Linked DNA regions of Homo sapiens: region 1 is linked to region 2. The links come from fine-mapping of genetic effects on gene expression. Tissue or cell type: thyroid. Region 2 holds a variant in brackets; the other region holds the start of a gene. All regions are shown on one strand. Distances are between the middles of the regions.

Evidence for each region. PIP is the estimated chance that this variant, and not a neighbour inherited with it, causes the effect.
Region 1: it holds the start of SLC35F4, and the variant in region 2 is fine-mapped to the expression of SLC35F4 in thyroid (GTEx, PIP above 0.99).

Annotation. Positions count from the first base shown.
Region 1 is chr14:57,861,935-57,870,054 of GRCh38, forward strand. SLC35F4 (solute carrier family 35 member F4) reads right to left here and starts at 4,158. Exons shown (of 8, transcript NM_001306087.2): 1 at 3,789-4,158. The coding sequence starts at 3,891.
Region 2 is chr14:57,829,688-57,837,807 of GRCh38, forward strand. The region is part of intron 1 of SLC35F4 (solute carrier family 35 member F4); the gene reads right to left. It also overlaps the pseudogene RN7SKP99. Among named protein-coding and RNA genes, the nearest start is that of SLC35F4, 32 kb to the right of the region's middle. The variant A/G (reference allele first, on the strand shown) is at 4,598.

The DNA.
Region 1 (8,120 bases), 32 kb after region 2:
CTTAAATACCACCCAAGTACTGGCAAATCCTTAATTTATATCTCCAATCAGACATCTACTCTGAACTCTAAGCTTACTCTACATCTCCAATTACATTTAGTATCTCTAAAACGTTATCCTTATCCCCTGACAATCCACCCCCCACCCCTTTCCAAAGTTTCTCTACCTTGAAACCTTCCACACTTCAGCTGATGGCAACTCAAACTTAGTCAAACCAGAAAAGATGCAGTCATTTTTTACTCCTATCTTTCTTACAGATACCATATCCAATCTATCAGGGTACCCTATTGGCTCTAATTTCAAATATATGCAGACTCTGACCACCTTTCTCTTCTTCTAGTGCTACAACTCTGGTTCAAGCCACCATCATGTCTCACCTACGTTATCACAATAACATACTAATTAGGTGTTTTCACCCTGTCCCAGTACAGCAGTGAGACTGATCTTTGTGTAAGATAAGTCACATCACTCTTCTCCCAAAACTCTTCAAATGCTCATTTCATTCAGAATACAAGCCAAAGGATTGACAATGACCTCTAAGGCCCTCCTTTATCTGCACTCCTGGATCCTCAGTGACCTCATCTCCAACCACTTTCCCAATTGTTCACTCCACTTCAGCCATACAGGCCTCCCTGCTGTTTCTCCAGCATGCTAGTTGTACTCTACCTCAGATCTTTGCGCTAGCTATTCCCACTGCCCAGAATGTGTTCTTCTGGATGTCCATATGGCTAACTCCCTCATATCCTTCAGGTCTTTGCTGAATTGTTACTTCCTCAGTGAGGACTTCCCTGATGAGCCTATTTAAAATTGTGATAATTTCTACCCCCAGAATATTTTATCCTTTTTATCCTGTTGTAATTTTTCAAAAGGCACTTATCACCTTGAAACATACTAAATAATTTATGTACTTGTTTATTTCTTTATTGTCTTGTTTGCTCCCACTAGAACTTAAGTTCTTAAAAGGAAAATACTTTTGTCTGTTTTGCTCATTGGTGTACTCCTGACACATAGGAGGTGCTCAATTAACACTTGTTGAATGAATGAATCTATTCCCTACCTAAGTAACCACACTATGCATTAATCATCTTTTTTAAAAAAAATGTTTAAATAAATATAGAAACAGTGTCTCACTACATTGGTCAAGTTGGTCTTGAACTCCCGGCCTCAAGCAATCCTCCTGCCTTGGCCTCCCAAAGTGCTAGGATTACAGACATGAGCCACTGCACCCACCTTTAATCATCTTTGTATCCAGATTTCTTATTTATATTTACTCAATAACTGTTCATTAATTGAACAGGATAAATAAAACAAATGCCCTATTGCCCATTAAAGTACCTTCATTTATCTGAATTCTATCATGTTTCTTTTTTTGCATCAGCCTGACTACTAGAATTTTTTCTGAACAAGGTACAAGCAAACAGCAGGATGCATTAACAGAAGGCTTGATCTTCAGTGCATTTTCTTAGAGGTAAGTCCCCGTCTATCTCCAAAAAGGTAAATGGCATAGATATCTAGAGATTGTCCTTCATATGTGATCAGACAGGAAATGAGAAAGTCACCTTGCTTTCACATATTATATATTCATCACTGTAGCCTTTTCTTAAGTATATTTTTCCAGACTTCCCCTAAGCTGTTGCTCATTCCCTGTAACAGCCAAATCAATTGACCATATTGTACTGGTTTGCTTCAGTGTGTTTGTTTACTAGTTGAAGCCTGCATTAGGACAGGATTATTTCATGGTGCTCGGTTCCCTGGCCCTCCTCCAGCTTTCTCCTCTCTCAATCTCTCACTGTGCAAAATAGCAATCTTTCTCTACTTCCGAAAGCATGAGCATCCTGAGATTTATCTGACTATCACTTAATTCTCTCTTCTTGTGAGATTCTCTGCCTTCACTCTTTTAACTCTACGGTCTGAACTTAGGTAGGTAAGTGCCCATCACAAATAACCATGCCAAGTTAATCTTTATCCCTTTTGGCTACCAGTTATAGCCTTGGCCAGTGCTCTTCCCTTTTTTTGTCCTGTTATTGTGTTGCAAATGAAGCATGTGCAGCTATTTGAGCAAGTACAAAAATATAATATGAACATGTTCTTATCTAAAATGTCACTTTTTCAGTATTCTTTTTGGGTTGTTCATTGTTAGCCAAAGTTCCATTGTCATAAAAATTACAATAATAAACCACCCTGAGTCTTGTAATTTCACACACAGCTTCTACATTCTCTAAGCCACTAAAATCCCATGGTTCCTAATTAAAATATTCAAAGGTGAAAGTCAAGTAATTTCCACAAGATATATTAGTTCCTTTACTTATGTTTCCAGGGTTAAAAAAGAAATCCTTTGCCAATAAAAAAGGAGAAGTTTTTGAGTGTATAGTACTTCAAAGGGCATTCCACAGTGTGTTATTTTCTTTCCAGAAAATTCTAACACTATATAATTACTTTTGTATGGAAAATGAATAATTTAAGCCCCTAATGCTAAAAACAGCTAGACAGAAACCATCCAAATCAGATAGGCCTTTCCTGAAACCAGATGAAATATCGAACTAGAAAATATCTGTGTGAGAACAGCCCATGGAACAAAGCTCTTGAATTATTATTCAATAGAGAGGAAGCATGGTAGGGGAGAAAGTTACATGAAAAAATAGTGTTTTCTTGTCTTTGTGCCGGAATTTTTGTGGGTCCCACGCATCACAGAAACTGTAATGTTGATTGCACCCCAAATGTCATAGAAAAATACGTATCAGAAATGCATCTAGGAGCTTCCAAGCTTCTGACAACAATAACGGCAAAAACATCAATTAAGCTTCATCTGTTGCAACAGAAATGCATTGATAAAGAAAAAAGCGAAAGCCCACCTGCATAGAAACTAAACCGCAGCTACTCCTCCAATTCGAAGAAAAATGAGCTGCACTTCAGTCGCCAGTAGAACTAATCCCAGCAAATATAGCTAGTGGGTTTGTGTACTGGGGGAGGGGGACTGCGAGCAGAGCACACCTCATCGCCCTCCCACCAAAACTGGTCCAAAAACGTGAAAGCATCCACGCCGCATGACCTCGCTTAGCTGGAAGAAAGCGGTGACCGCGACGTGCGGCGGGGGCGGGTGGCCCTGTCGCCTCCCCTTCTCAGACCCCCCCCCCCCACGCCCCCAGTCTTTTGCACGGGTCTCTGGCTCCAAGCTCTGGGGCTCGGAGACCTGAGCAGGTTCTTTTCTCTTCCCAGGGTGAAGAACCTCCTAAAGATACTGTAACCGGAGTAACTCCCGCGCTGGCAGCGTCTCAACAGCCCGGAGTGAACGAGCTGACCCCACCAGCGCCGGGACCCACGTCTGGGTCGGCCGCCCCCGCCAGCCCCACCCCCGAGCCTCCCCAGCCTGCGTCCCCAGCGCCCCGCACGCAGTAGGGGCTTTCGGGGCATGTATCCCCTAGGGCTGACTTTCCGCTAAGTGAACAGCCATGTTAGCCTCCTCCGGGCGTAAATCCACCAGGGTGAGCCGGCCAACGGCGGTCAGGAGCGCTCACCAGGTCCCCTCCGCACCTCCCCCCAAGGCTACGACTGTTTCCAAACTCCTGGGCGCACCCAGCCGGGCCCCTTGCCCTCTCACGGTTCAGCACCGAGGACAGCGGACATACTTTTCTCCCCGGGGGGTCCCCGCCGCCAGGAAGGCGGTGTTGACAGCGTCCGCAGGGCTGCAGGTGTCCGTACCGCGCGCCCGCCCGTCCGCATCCCCGCGGCACCCCTGCGCGCCCACCTCCCTTCCCCGCCTCGCGCAGGGCAGCCGCGCGGCGTCTTACTTTTCTGGCTGGAGTAACCTGGATAATAGCCATAGTAGCCGGTGATCCGCAGGATCCGGTCCTCGATAGTGGCCACCCCGTTGGGGGCCGCCTTGACATCCATAGAGAGCGCGGGGCGACGGCCCCGAGTGCGGCGGGGCGGAGAGCGCAGCGCGGGGCCCGGGAGCTGGTGCAGGTGCCGGAGCCGCTGGTGCTGATCTTGCAGCTCCTGCTCCCGCGCCCGGGCTCTGACTCCACCGCCCGGCGCAGCACCGGCTCCGCATCACAGCGGCGGCGGCGGCGGCGGCGGCGGAGCGGCCCCCACTCGGGCCGGCCTCTCCGTCAGCCTGGCAGCTCTCCCGCGCGCCACCCGGAGCACTGCTGCCCGAATAGCGCCCCCTCACCTCCGACGCCCACCGTGGCCGGGGGCGGGTGTGGGCGCCCCACCTGGTCGCCAGCTTTCATCATTAACCCTTGCGCGATCCTTCCCGAAAACTAGACACCCCAACCCCACCTGATGAAAGGGATGTTTGGTCAGTGGGGCGCGAGAGGAGAAGGCGACGGTGGCCAGGGGCTCAGAGAAGGGTGTTGGGAGTGGGAGAAACCCAAGAGGGACTCATAGCTGTTAATGCGAGGCATTAACTCTGTCGCTCGGGGAGAAGACACTTCTGGGGCGCCCCGGGACTCGGTCCACGCTTGGCGTCTACACCACCTCTGGTCTGCTGATATGCAAGCATTCCCCCGCGTTAGTCAGTCCTTGCAACTTGTCTAGAAGACTGGGAATCTTTTTTTATGAAATGACAAGAAAATTAGTTCCCGGCAGGTGGTATATGGAGTGATTATCCAGGTTTTGCAGACGCAAAGACTGTAAGTGTTCAAGCGCTCAAGTCTGACTGTCCATACGGACCCTCCATCCTGCCACTGAAAAATGTCAAAGGCTTAGAAGATTCAGCTGCACACAGCACGTTTATTTTTCCAATTTCAAATGCTCTGAGGAGAAATGATTTTCTCCTTTATTGCCAAAAATATCAGGAGGGAAGTCCTTCAAACTGTAAATATCTGGACGAGTGAAAGTCTTAGCTACAGTCTAGAGCCTTTCCATTAGAGCAGAACATCCTTGAAGCTGTGTGTTCAGAGCGAACACCCTCCCCTCAGGTGTGGGACTCTTCTGCTTTAGCCAGAGACCCAATGGGTTAGGGTCAGTGAGCAGTGGAGACGATTCCTCTGTTCATAGTCTGCAGACACAGCTTCCTGCAAATAATAATAATAATAATAATAATAATAATAATAATAATAATAATTTTCAAAGTTTCATCTCAGAAATGAAAAGGTGGAGGTGGAGGGTTAGTGGAGGGGAGGGTCAGCTCATCAGCTTAGAGGCAATTTAGGTCCACCTTCCGTGCAGAGCTGGCTTAAGACATCCCTGCCAGGTTTCATATTACTAAAGCTTAGGGAGAAGAAAAAAAGAGAAACAAAAGTCGACTTCAATGCCCCTCTCAGAAACCTCCAGAGAACCTATCACACCATCCTGCCTCCAAGCATTTTCCACATTGTGTGTGGGCCCTTAAGAAGGAAGAAATATGCAAATTTTTTTTCTAAAAGGTAAATTAGGTTTAAGCATATGAAAACGCAATATTAAATTTTACAATATGTTTTGGGTTTTCATCCAAACACAAAGCTTAGCACGGGATCTTGAGAGTGGAGTCAATCTGAGATTATTGTGGCTGGAAGGAGAGTTCATAAAGAAACCAATTTCCTCCTACACCTGTTTTCTGGGCTAGGAAAGATGGAAGGGTGGAAAGAGCTAAAAGGTCAAAAGGAACTAAAAGGAAAAACCAACACTAGTGCAGTGATGGGGAGCTAGCCATATAAAGCAAAAATGAAAGCGTTATGCCTTTACACCCCCCCCCACGTGAAATAATATTCAGCACACTTTTGTTAGTTTTATTATTTCTGTGGCAAAATTATATCAAATGCATGTATTGCACATGGTAAAATGTGTTCATCACATATAATTTTAAATGTCACTTTTGTTTGAAGTTTCTATGAAAGATAAATTTTCCAATATTACATATATTATATATTTTGATAATAGCCATCATAATCCATAGCACATTAATATATATATCAGTAAGAGAGAAATTAGGAAACAATTCAAGCAAAAACCTTCTGATGTAACAGGAATATATATGTATACACATACATACACACACACATATGCAGACTTAAAAACAAGTGGTTTTTCCCATTGCTTATAACTTATCTTGCCATAATTAATGTACTTAAATTATAAATAACAATTACCGTGTAAGTCATTACCTTCTTCCTGCTTTTGCTTTATTTTCATAAATCTCCATAGAAGTAGATAAAAATGTATTTAACTGGATCTGATCATTCATATAAACAGTAAATTCAGCATAAATTTAAATACTACAATGTAAACATACCCGCAAGAGTCTATGTTTTCTTTTGAAAAAGTAAAAATTTTCAGACTGACCTGGAAATAAATTTTAAAATAGCAAAGCACTTACAAATCTCTCTATAATCATCTGTAATAGGATGACCAAAATAGTAAATGCCAGCAAGTGCTATAATCTAGGCCACACTTTTAATGGAAGGAACTGAAATCCTACAATTATAAATTGATAAACAGTCAAAGGTAAATTTCTGCTAGTCATGAACACTCTTGGCATATATGATAAAAGATGTTTTAATCTTTCAATAGTCATTTTAGACGTTATTAACAATTTACAGAAATTATTTTGAAGAAAGGATAATTTTTTTTTTTTTTTGAGACAAAGTCTCACTCTGTCACCCAGGCTGGAGTGCAATGGTGCAATCTCGGCTCACTGCAACCTCCGCCTCCCGGGTTCAAGTGATTCTCATGCCTCAGCCTCCGGAGTAATTAGGACTACAGGCACCCGACACCACGCCCAGCTAATTTTTTTGTATTTTTAGTAGAGATGGGGTTTCACCATGTTGGCCAGACTGGTCTCGAACTCCTGACCTCAGGTGATTCACCAAAGTGCTGGGACTACAGGCATGAGCCACCGTGCCCGGCGGAAGGAAGGATAACTTTTAAAGCATTTTTATGTTTGCATGTTTAGTCTACCAGTTTTCACAAACCCAAATATTCAAATTTACAAACTATGAGTTGCAATGTATGCCTCAAATCTATTCTGAAAGAATAAAGAAAAGACACAACTTAATAAATGAAGATTGAAGGTCATTATTTGATTCATAAAATAGTTTATCATGATAGCCCTTCACATAGCCAGTTTCTCTAGTAGTTGTAAATTATAATTCGATTTGTTATAAAACAAAATTTGTTTTTTGTGCGCTCTTCAGGAATTTTTTAATGCATCAAGCAGAGGGTATCTATCTGTGATCCCAGATGAGTTTTGATATATGAGCCATATGGATTTTGATCATCTGATCAAATCAGATTAGCTATTTATACTAATTGAGTATACAATTAGGTATTCACGTGTTGTGGTTTTTTTTTTTTTTAAAAAAAGCCAAATCATTTGTAAAGTAGTTCATGGGATGATCACTTACAGTCCTTGTGTCTGATGCTAGAATAGCTATACCAAGTAATAACATTAAAACTAAATATGATCACTGGGTATAAATTTTATTCAAAGATAAGCAGTCTGAAAATACCATATCAGTCTATACACTTTGGAAGGGTTAGTAAAATAAAATCCATGGAATCTAGTCTTCTGTACTTTAATTAGCAGAAAGGGATCAGAAAATCTGGGCTTTAGTCGTCTTTTTATGGCAGGAATAAGACACCTAATCTTTCTATTCACCTATTTGAAGTTACCACTGAAAGATGCTGAAAGAAGGGGAAATGATCTTTTTCCCCTCTGGGAAATTAGTATATTTTACCTATCTCCTTGGGCTAAAAGTAACTTGGCTGCTTGGAAAGCCAAGAATCTTTAAGCTTTTATAGTCAAGGGCCAATGTTACTTTGTACAAACACCAGCACTGTTTACAAAGAGTTGACCCCAAGAAATTTAAACAGTGTTAGTGTTTAAAAGCATCTGGCTTCTAGCCAACCAGGTGATAAGAAATGGCACCTGAGAAAGAAAAAGCATGCTCTTAATATTCCATTTTCAGGGAAGTTGTTTTGAGTATTTAACTGCCAAGTCATCAGCCACCCCATTTGGAATGCTGACACAGCCTTTCTGTTTCAATAGTAGGCAATGGCAGACATTGCTAATTTACCTTTCAGCTCAAAGGGGCTGGGTGTCTGTATGAGAAGACAGGGCAGAGTCCACTCTTCATTGGCCTCAGGTGCCAGGCTGCATCCCAGGACTAATTTTGAGGCTCAACTCTTTGGAAAGGCAC
Region 2 (8,120 bases):
TCCTGGGTGCTGTGAGACCAATCGCTACTGCAACAGGGGTTGTGGGTAGTGATCACTGGCTGGTTGTGTGTGATTCTGAGTCTTTTAATCCCTTCAGGCATGCAGATAAAAATTCCAATATTTCAAAGAAGGCCGTGAATATAAAAAAGAAAAAATTTGAGAATCTCCAGATAGGGGAGTTGAATTGTATTTTATAAGCAATGGGAAATCACTCATGGTTTTTTAACAGGAGAGTGACTTTATGGAAAAAACACAGCAGGAAGAATAATCTTGCAGTTAAATGCAAATTGGAATGAAAAGAGAAGAGAGTGTATAAGCAAGAATAAAACTTATTTCCATTCCTCTACAGTTTTAATTTTGAAGAGTAGAAAAAAGTATATAATTTTTAACTTTACAAAAATATTCCAATACATTGTCTGCTACCTACAAAAAAAAAGTAATGGAAGTAAAATCTAGAAATACTACTCCAAAAGAAAGTGTTTATGTAGCATTATTTCCTCTTCACATATGTTGCCTTTTTTTCAGCTTTGTAACATTTCAACTGTGTGGTTTTGGTCAAATTGATCAATCTCTGTAATCCTTGGTTTCGTGATCTGTAAAACGGAGAAAATGTGGTGTAATGCCACCTCATTGAGTCACTGTGAGGATTAAATGAAATAATGTATGTTAACTACCACTTCCTTTATAATATCCGAGGAGATTTTTATTTGGATCTCCCTAGCTTCGGACAAGAGAAATACTTCTTACAGTCTAAGAGTAACTTAGAATATGCCCCAAATATGAAGTTACAACCCAATTTTATGTTATGCTATGGAAATCCTAAAAGATATTTCTTAGAAAACCTGAAGTCTAGCATGAGAAAGATTGAAAATTTAAAGAGCAAAGTGATTGGAAACTCACTTATGAAGCCTATAACTTAAAATCTCATAATTAAATGAGCCAATATGGTTCTGGATGGCTCTGCTCAGATCTCAGTTTCAGACCACCTACCTTCAATGGGAAAATGGTATATGCCTGATATATTCTGTAAAATACCAACTTTATCTATGAGGAGGGAAGCTGTCACTGGTTACAAAAACAGACCATGGCTGGAGGTGTTGCAAGACAAAGAATCACACACTCTTTTTACACTTTCTCTGTGACCCCAAAATCAAAAACCCAGAGCCAATTTATCAGAAATTCACCCTAACTGAACACAGTGCCCATTTCTGCACAGACTACCTGTGGAGCAAGTTCAACAGCACTTGTATAGAGAACACCAGCACTTATTTGAAGCACTGGGGGTGCAAAAATGAAATAGAATGCATCCCTGCTCTTGAATGCTGGTGGGACATGGTATGCATGCTCTGTCAGAATTTATCATCTTCTCTCTCAACTCTGATTTCTTCACTGTGTTCCCATTTCTGTTTCTACACCATTACTCTGCACCAATCACTCAGGCCAGCAGAGCAGGGAGGTGATTTTCGATTCCTCCCATTCCTTTCCTGACTTCTTACAGATGCCAAGTTCTACCATTCTCCTTCCACAGTATCTCTAATATCTTTCTCTCCCTGCCATGTGAGAATATAGTGAGAAGGCAGCCTCTGCAAGCCGGAAAGAGGGCCCTCACTAGACACAGAGTTTGTTGGCACCTTGATCTTAGACTTCCCAGCCTCCAGAACTGTGAGAAATAAATGTCAATGTTTAAGCCACAGAATCTTTGGTATTTTGTGATAGCAGCCCAAGCTGACCAAGACAGTGATAGACGCAGGCATACAGCATAGCCTCCCAGGACAGAGGAGGGTGGAGAAGGGCCAAGCGTGAATCTGGAGGGACAAACTAAAGCCACCCAGTACAGACAGCTCTTAAGAGATAAGCAGAATTTGCAGTACAGCAGCAATCTATGTTTCACAAACTGCCACAGTAAATAATCTATCCTGTGTTATTGTTTTCTGTGGAATTCTCAAGCAGCAAGAGGGAATATTACCATGTAATCATTTCCCTTTATTTCAGTAATTTAAAGAGTGAAAACCTTGGAGCTTTTTTCTCCTTGAGAGACCAGAGCATATTTGTGGGTCCAATAACACCTTTGCAAAACAGAAGAAACATTAACTTTATCTTTATATTATCCAGGCAGAAGAATGCATTCTAATAAGCAATGAAGTGAAAAACCCTACTGTGATTGAATTTATTTTTCCATAGAAATGCAGGAAATAGTCATGAATGTTTTACTAAAATGCTTCCTAATCATAAGTGTATATCCGTGTCTTCACAAGTCATGTTTTTGAGCACTGCAACTCTCCAAGCCAGCAAAGAACTCTGTAAAATTGTCTTTAATCCCTCACAAATGACTCAGGAGTCCCACTGAGGCTTTATCACGTATTATTTAATAAATTCATGAATCTACAAACCAGAAGATGTGGAAAAACCATAGCAACCAGGAGCAAGATTGGAGAAGTTGGCCAGGGTTGAAGGACGCTAGGAGGCACATACAGCCTTCCTGAGCTCTGAAGCCCCTCCCTCCCGGCCCACCCCACATCACTTGACGTTGCCTTAGCCACACCTCTGCCTTCCGCAGACTCAGTACAGGAACTTGCAGCAGAATGGGCTTCAAGAGTTTAACTGCTCTAGTCACCTGCCTTCAGATAAATTATTAACACTTTATACATGAGGAAAATAAGACCCTAAGACTTTAAGTAGCTTGTCCAAAGTCACAGATTAATACATAGAAGAAGAATATGTAGGATGAACAAGCCTAGAATCTCATGTATGACATGAGGACTATAGTTAAGAAAATTATATTGTATTTTTGTTAATAAATAAATTTTAGCTTTTCTTGTTACAAAAAGAAGTAACTATGTGAGATGATAGACATGTTAATTTGCTTTATGACAGGACTATTTTACTATCTATATGTATCCCATAACATTGTGTTGTAAACCTCAAATATATACAATACAATTTATTAGAAACAATAAACAGAGAATGATAACTAAAGTCCTGATCTTCCTAGCACAATACTTTTACCAACTCCAATTTTTGCATGTTCTGGCTCTACAAATGAGATGAGGGAAAAGAGAACACAAATTCCCTATACATTTCTGATGCAGTAAACATAGCAATTGAAAATAGAATGCTGGAACTGTAATTCATGTGTAAAATTACACTCACTGATAAAAAATTTTTTCACATTACAGTAAATTTGCCCTTGAGAAAACGTGGTGAAATATTTCAGGTATTATTTTCTGTCAGCCTAGCCAACACGACCCAGGGTACTTTTATTCTTTCCAAGTCCTCATAATTGCTAGAGAATTTGTTCATTTCTTTAATGATAAATATTGTAGGAACACGAGAGCAGGTGTCCCTGAAATAACATTAATTAGGCAAACTAAAATCACATATGCATAAAGAACAAGAACAAAAGTTCTCTATTTAGAGCTAGTAAAAGCATGACTGGTATAAAGCTTACTGTCACGTTGTTGTCATTGTCACCATCATCATCCTTGTTATCATCTAATCGCAAGGCAATCTCACTAAAGACAGACAGAATTCTCATATTCTTTCACGGTCCCTAATGAGATTACCTTAACCCTATCCCTAGCTCTGCACATCCTGTGACATTAAATGATGCTTGTAAAGGACCATCTCTGCTAGATAATTTTGGTATTTTCATTCTTTTCTGAAAATCAGTACAGATTACCCAGGCTTTGCACCCCCAGAGGATCTGAGTCAGTGTTTTGGGATAGAGCCCAGCCATCGGTATGTTGTAAAAGCTCCCCAGGTGATTCTGATGAATCAAAACACAGAAGACTGGGCTCTGTCCCAGAATGACTGACTCAGAATCTCTGGGGCTCAAGGCCTGGGAGACATTCACTTCAAAAAACCTCCCCTGGGTGACTCAGATGCATATCAGAGAGTGAGAAATGCTCTCCTCAATTGACAGGCATAAATCTATCCACAACATCAGGAGGATACACCGGAGTTACAACCAATATCAAATGAATATTTGAATACAGACTCCAGCCATGGCCATAGCTAATCTCCCGTTGGCTTTCCAATTTGGATAAATGCTAAATTTGCTCATTAGGGTAGCTGTTGGCATATTTAAATATACCATGGAGACTGCAACTTTAGTGCATCTCTTGCATTTTCATATATTCACAAATCACCTTTATGAAGACTAGCTTCACAGAAAATAATTTTTTAAATGCACGTTAACAAGAACAGAAACCAAGCAACAGCCTCAATTTGAGAAAATGTTTAATTTTACCATAGGAATCTTTTTGTTCCCTCTCTTCACATGTTAAAATAAATCTGAGGCTATTTACAAAACCTTGTGCTGAATTAAGTGAAACACAAATGAAACAACCCTCATTATTAAAAGTCTATAAATTAAAATAATAACAAAGGCTGACCCCAAACTCCACCTAAGATGAGAGCAACCCGACATTTCAAGAAGAAACACTTTCCCAGAGAACAAGTCATGAAGCATGACATCTTAAAACTCCAGAGTACAAAATGTCAACACCAAAAGGACTGAGTTGGTAAAAATTGAGAAAGAGTGGGTACTGAGAAGTAAAATCTGTTTCAAACAAAACTAACTCCTGCAAGATTTTGC[A/G]CTTCACTGAATAACTACAGCACATTGGTGTGTTCATTTTTTTCTTTTTTCTCTACAGATTCATTCCTTCTACTTTGTACAAGCCCTAACAGTAAGCTATAAAAATGTCATAAATTATTACAGTGCAAATAGTGTAAAATCTTATGCTCACAAGGAGGTCCAAAGTGGTAATCATGCATTCCTTAGTTTGAAATACAAAGAAAAACATGCTTTTTGCTTACAAAGTAAAATGATGACAATTGCAAAACATCTCAGTAGAACTGGTACCTAATTTCTGTTGCCAGTGAAGGGAGGGGAGATATTAGGACAGGTGTTAGAAAGGACAATGGTATAACTAAACCGTCATTCACTTAATGGAAGTCCCAGTATGATGAAAGAACAATGTTATTTTTAGATCAAATCCTTCCTATCCAGCATGTCAGTATAAAAATTGCTTCTCAGAGAACCAAAATAGGCCGGGCACAGTGGCTCATGCCTGTAATCCTAACACTTTAGGAGGCCGAGGTAGGCGGATCACCTGAGGTCAGGAGTTCGAGACCAGCATGGCCAGCATGGCCAGCATGGCGAAACCCCATCTCTACTAAAACTACAAAAATTAACTAGGTATGGTGGTGCATGCCTGTAATCTCAGCTACTCAGGAGGCTGAGGCAGGAGAATTGCTTGAACCCAGAAGGCAGAGATTGCAGTGGGCCGAGATCGCACCACTGCACTCCAGCCTGGGTAACAGAGGGAGACTCTGTCTCAAAAACAAAACAAAACAAAACAAAAATAACCAAACTAGAATGGTTGAAGTATTAACAGACCAATACAGAAGTTGCTGTTTGCCACAGAAACATGAAAATAGAACCAGTGTTATTCACTGTGCCCATGGGGCAACCCGTGCTTGAAGAAAAGGGCCCCTCCCATCTCCTTCAGATCCTGTAATCATATTGTTCCTCCTCACCAGACACCAACTCATTTGGAAGGATACAGAGTCCAAGTAGGTCCTATAGTATGTCTCCAGTGAGTCCTTGCAGTTCACAAGCTGTGGTGAAGCCACATTAATACAGCTACTTCTCAACAATTGGAAGTCAGATAAAACAGTGGATGGGAAATATAATCAGAAGTCAGTCATAATGGAAAAATTTGCATAAATCAACAGTTTCTAACTCTCCCAACCCCCAAGACTTTCTCAACACTCCTAAAAAGCAACAAATGACTGATTTGCTTTTCACATCCTCTCCCTTCTTTTGCTCTTTCTCATTGTCAGCAGAACAATACGCAAAATGTGACTGACAAGAAAGAGAAAGAGGAGCAAAAGGACTCTATAACATTTCTGTCATGTAATTACTGAGGACTCAAGAGTTGGCTGGAGAGGAATGACCCCTGCCCAGTTTCTGCTGCTAGTAATAATTTGGAGTCCTGGAGGACAGGCCAAACTCAACATGCCTAAAATTTAATTTAGCACTGATCACCCACGAACACCTCTCTCCTTCCAGCCTCGCTAGTCTGTCAAAGTTGCCATGTTAAAACCTAAGTGTTACCCTTGGCTCCTTCTTATTCTGGCATCAAGCCATGTCTAGTCTCCAAATGATTTCAGCTCTTTCAGAGTTCTCAGAATGTTCCTTTCTTTTAATTTCCATTGTTTGGGCTGAGAGTTAAAGAATGCAGGAATTTTCTAAACAACACATTTGGGAAACATTCCAAGAAACAGAACCATCTGCATCAAGATGCAGGTTGTGAGAGGATGGCACACTAGGAACTACCGGTGACCTGGTATTATTGCAATCCAAAGTGGCAAGAAAGGAGGTGAGAAAGGCCTGTAGCAGGAAGGACCTTTGATTTCTCAATGAGAAGCTTGAATGTTTTCCAGCAGCCAGTGTTTTGCAGACTTCAGTAGTTTAACTAATGACTTACCTACATACCACCCATATTATTCTTATTTGCTTAATAGTTTTTCTCTGAACTCACTTATTGTTCCATATTAATCAACTTATTTAACATTGAAATTTTATTTTTTATTTTATTGATTGATTGATTGATTGATTTGAGATGGAGTCTCGCTGTCACCAGGCTGGAGTGCAGTGGCGCGATCTCAGCTCACTGCAACCTCCGACTCCCTGGTTCAAGTGATTCTCCTGCCTCAGCCTCCCGAGTAGCTGGGACTACAGGCATGCGCCATCACATCCAGCTAATTTTTGTATTTTTAGTAGAAACGGGGTTTCACCATGTTGACCAAGAGGGTCTCGATCTCCTAAGCTCGTGATCCGCCTGCCTCAGCCTCCCAAAGTGCTGGGATTACAGGTGTGAGCCACTGCGCCGGCCTGAAATTTTATTTTAACTCAAACATTTCCTTATGAAAACTTTGAAATATACACAATAGAGACAATAGTATAATTAATCTACATGTACTCAGCACAGCAAATATCAGCCCATGACCAATCTTGTTTCCTTTGTACTCCCCTAAGCACCACCGCTACCTCCACCTCCATCAGCACACACACAAGCACACCCTTCCTGAATTACTTTAAGCAGATCACAGACATTATATCTTTCCATCTATATATAATTTGTATCTGTAAAGGATAATGACTATAACGCCATCATCACACCTAAAAAAATTAATAACAATTCCTAAATATCATCTTACATCCAGAACATTAAAATTTTACATCACTGTCATATATTAAAAACTGAAATAATTTGCCACAAATTTTTAAAAGAAAATGTTATTAACATTATGGCATGATATGCTTGTAATTGGAACACTTAGCTTGAAGGCTCTTCTCCTTACTAAAAACTGAGATTAGAAAATGTTACACTGGTCTTCCACTTATACATCCTCATTGTCAGAAGGAGAAGGATTGAAAGGGAACTTAAAATGAAATAAATTTTTCACTGTGTAATTTAAAATTATTTAACACCATGTCTGAGTACCACCTAAATCTTGCATTTAACCAGGAATATCTGTCCCACACTTCAAGAGACACTGTTACAGGGAATCATCAAAGAATTTAGGGCTTGATGGAATTCCTAATTGCGAAGAATTTTTCTAGCAGCGAAAAGAGCAGAAGGGAGGTATGATGGAGAAACGGACAACCTGTATGTCCCACAACTTACTGAGCCACTTTCAAATTTCTTGAAAGTTTGTTTGGCTCAAATACTGTAGTTCTCCTAGTGCTCCAATAGGGGAGCATACAGACTCGCATGCCTTTGACCAAGGGTAGACCTCCTCCAATTGGAAAGACCACTTGCTTTGACCAATCTCACAGCTTCTGGGATAGGGACCACACGTGCGTATAGGAGAGGAAGGGGACTTAACCTAGCCAACCCGGCTGAATAGAACCTTGCTATCAATGAGGTGACTGATGTCACATCCTGATGACCGTCACATATCATACCATCATTTCTTGAACCATCACTGTCACCCAAGATACCCCCCACTTCTCCAAAGCCAATCTTCCCTAGAAAGGGGCTTTTGTGCCAGGTTCTAGAGCGTCCTTCCTCATAAGCACTCTTTTCTGTGAATAAATTACCAATTCT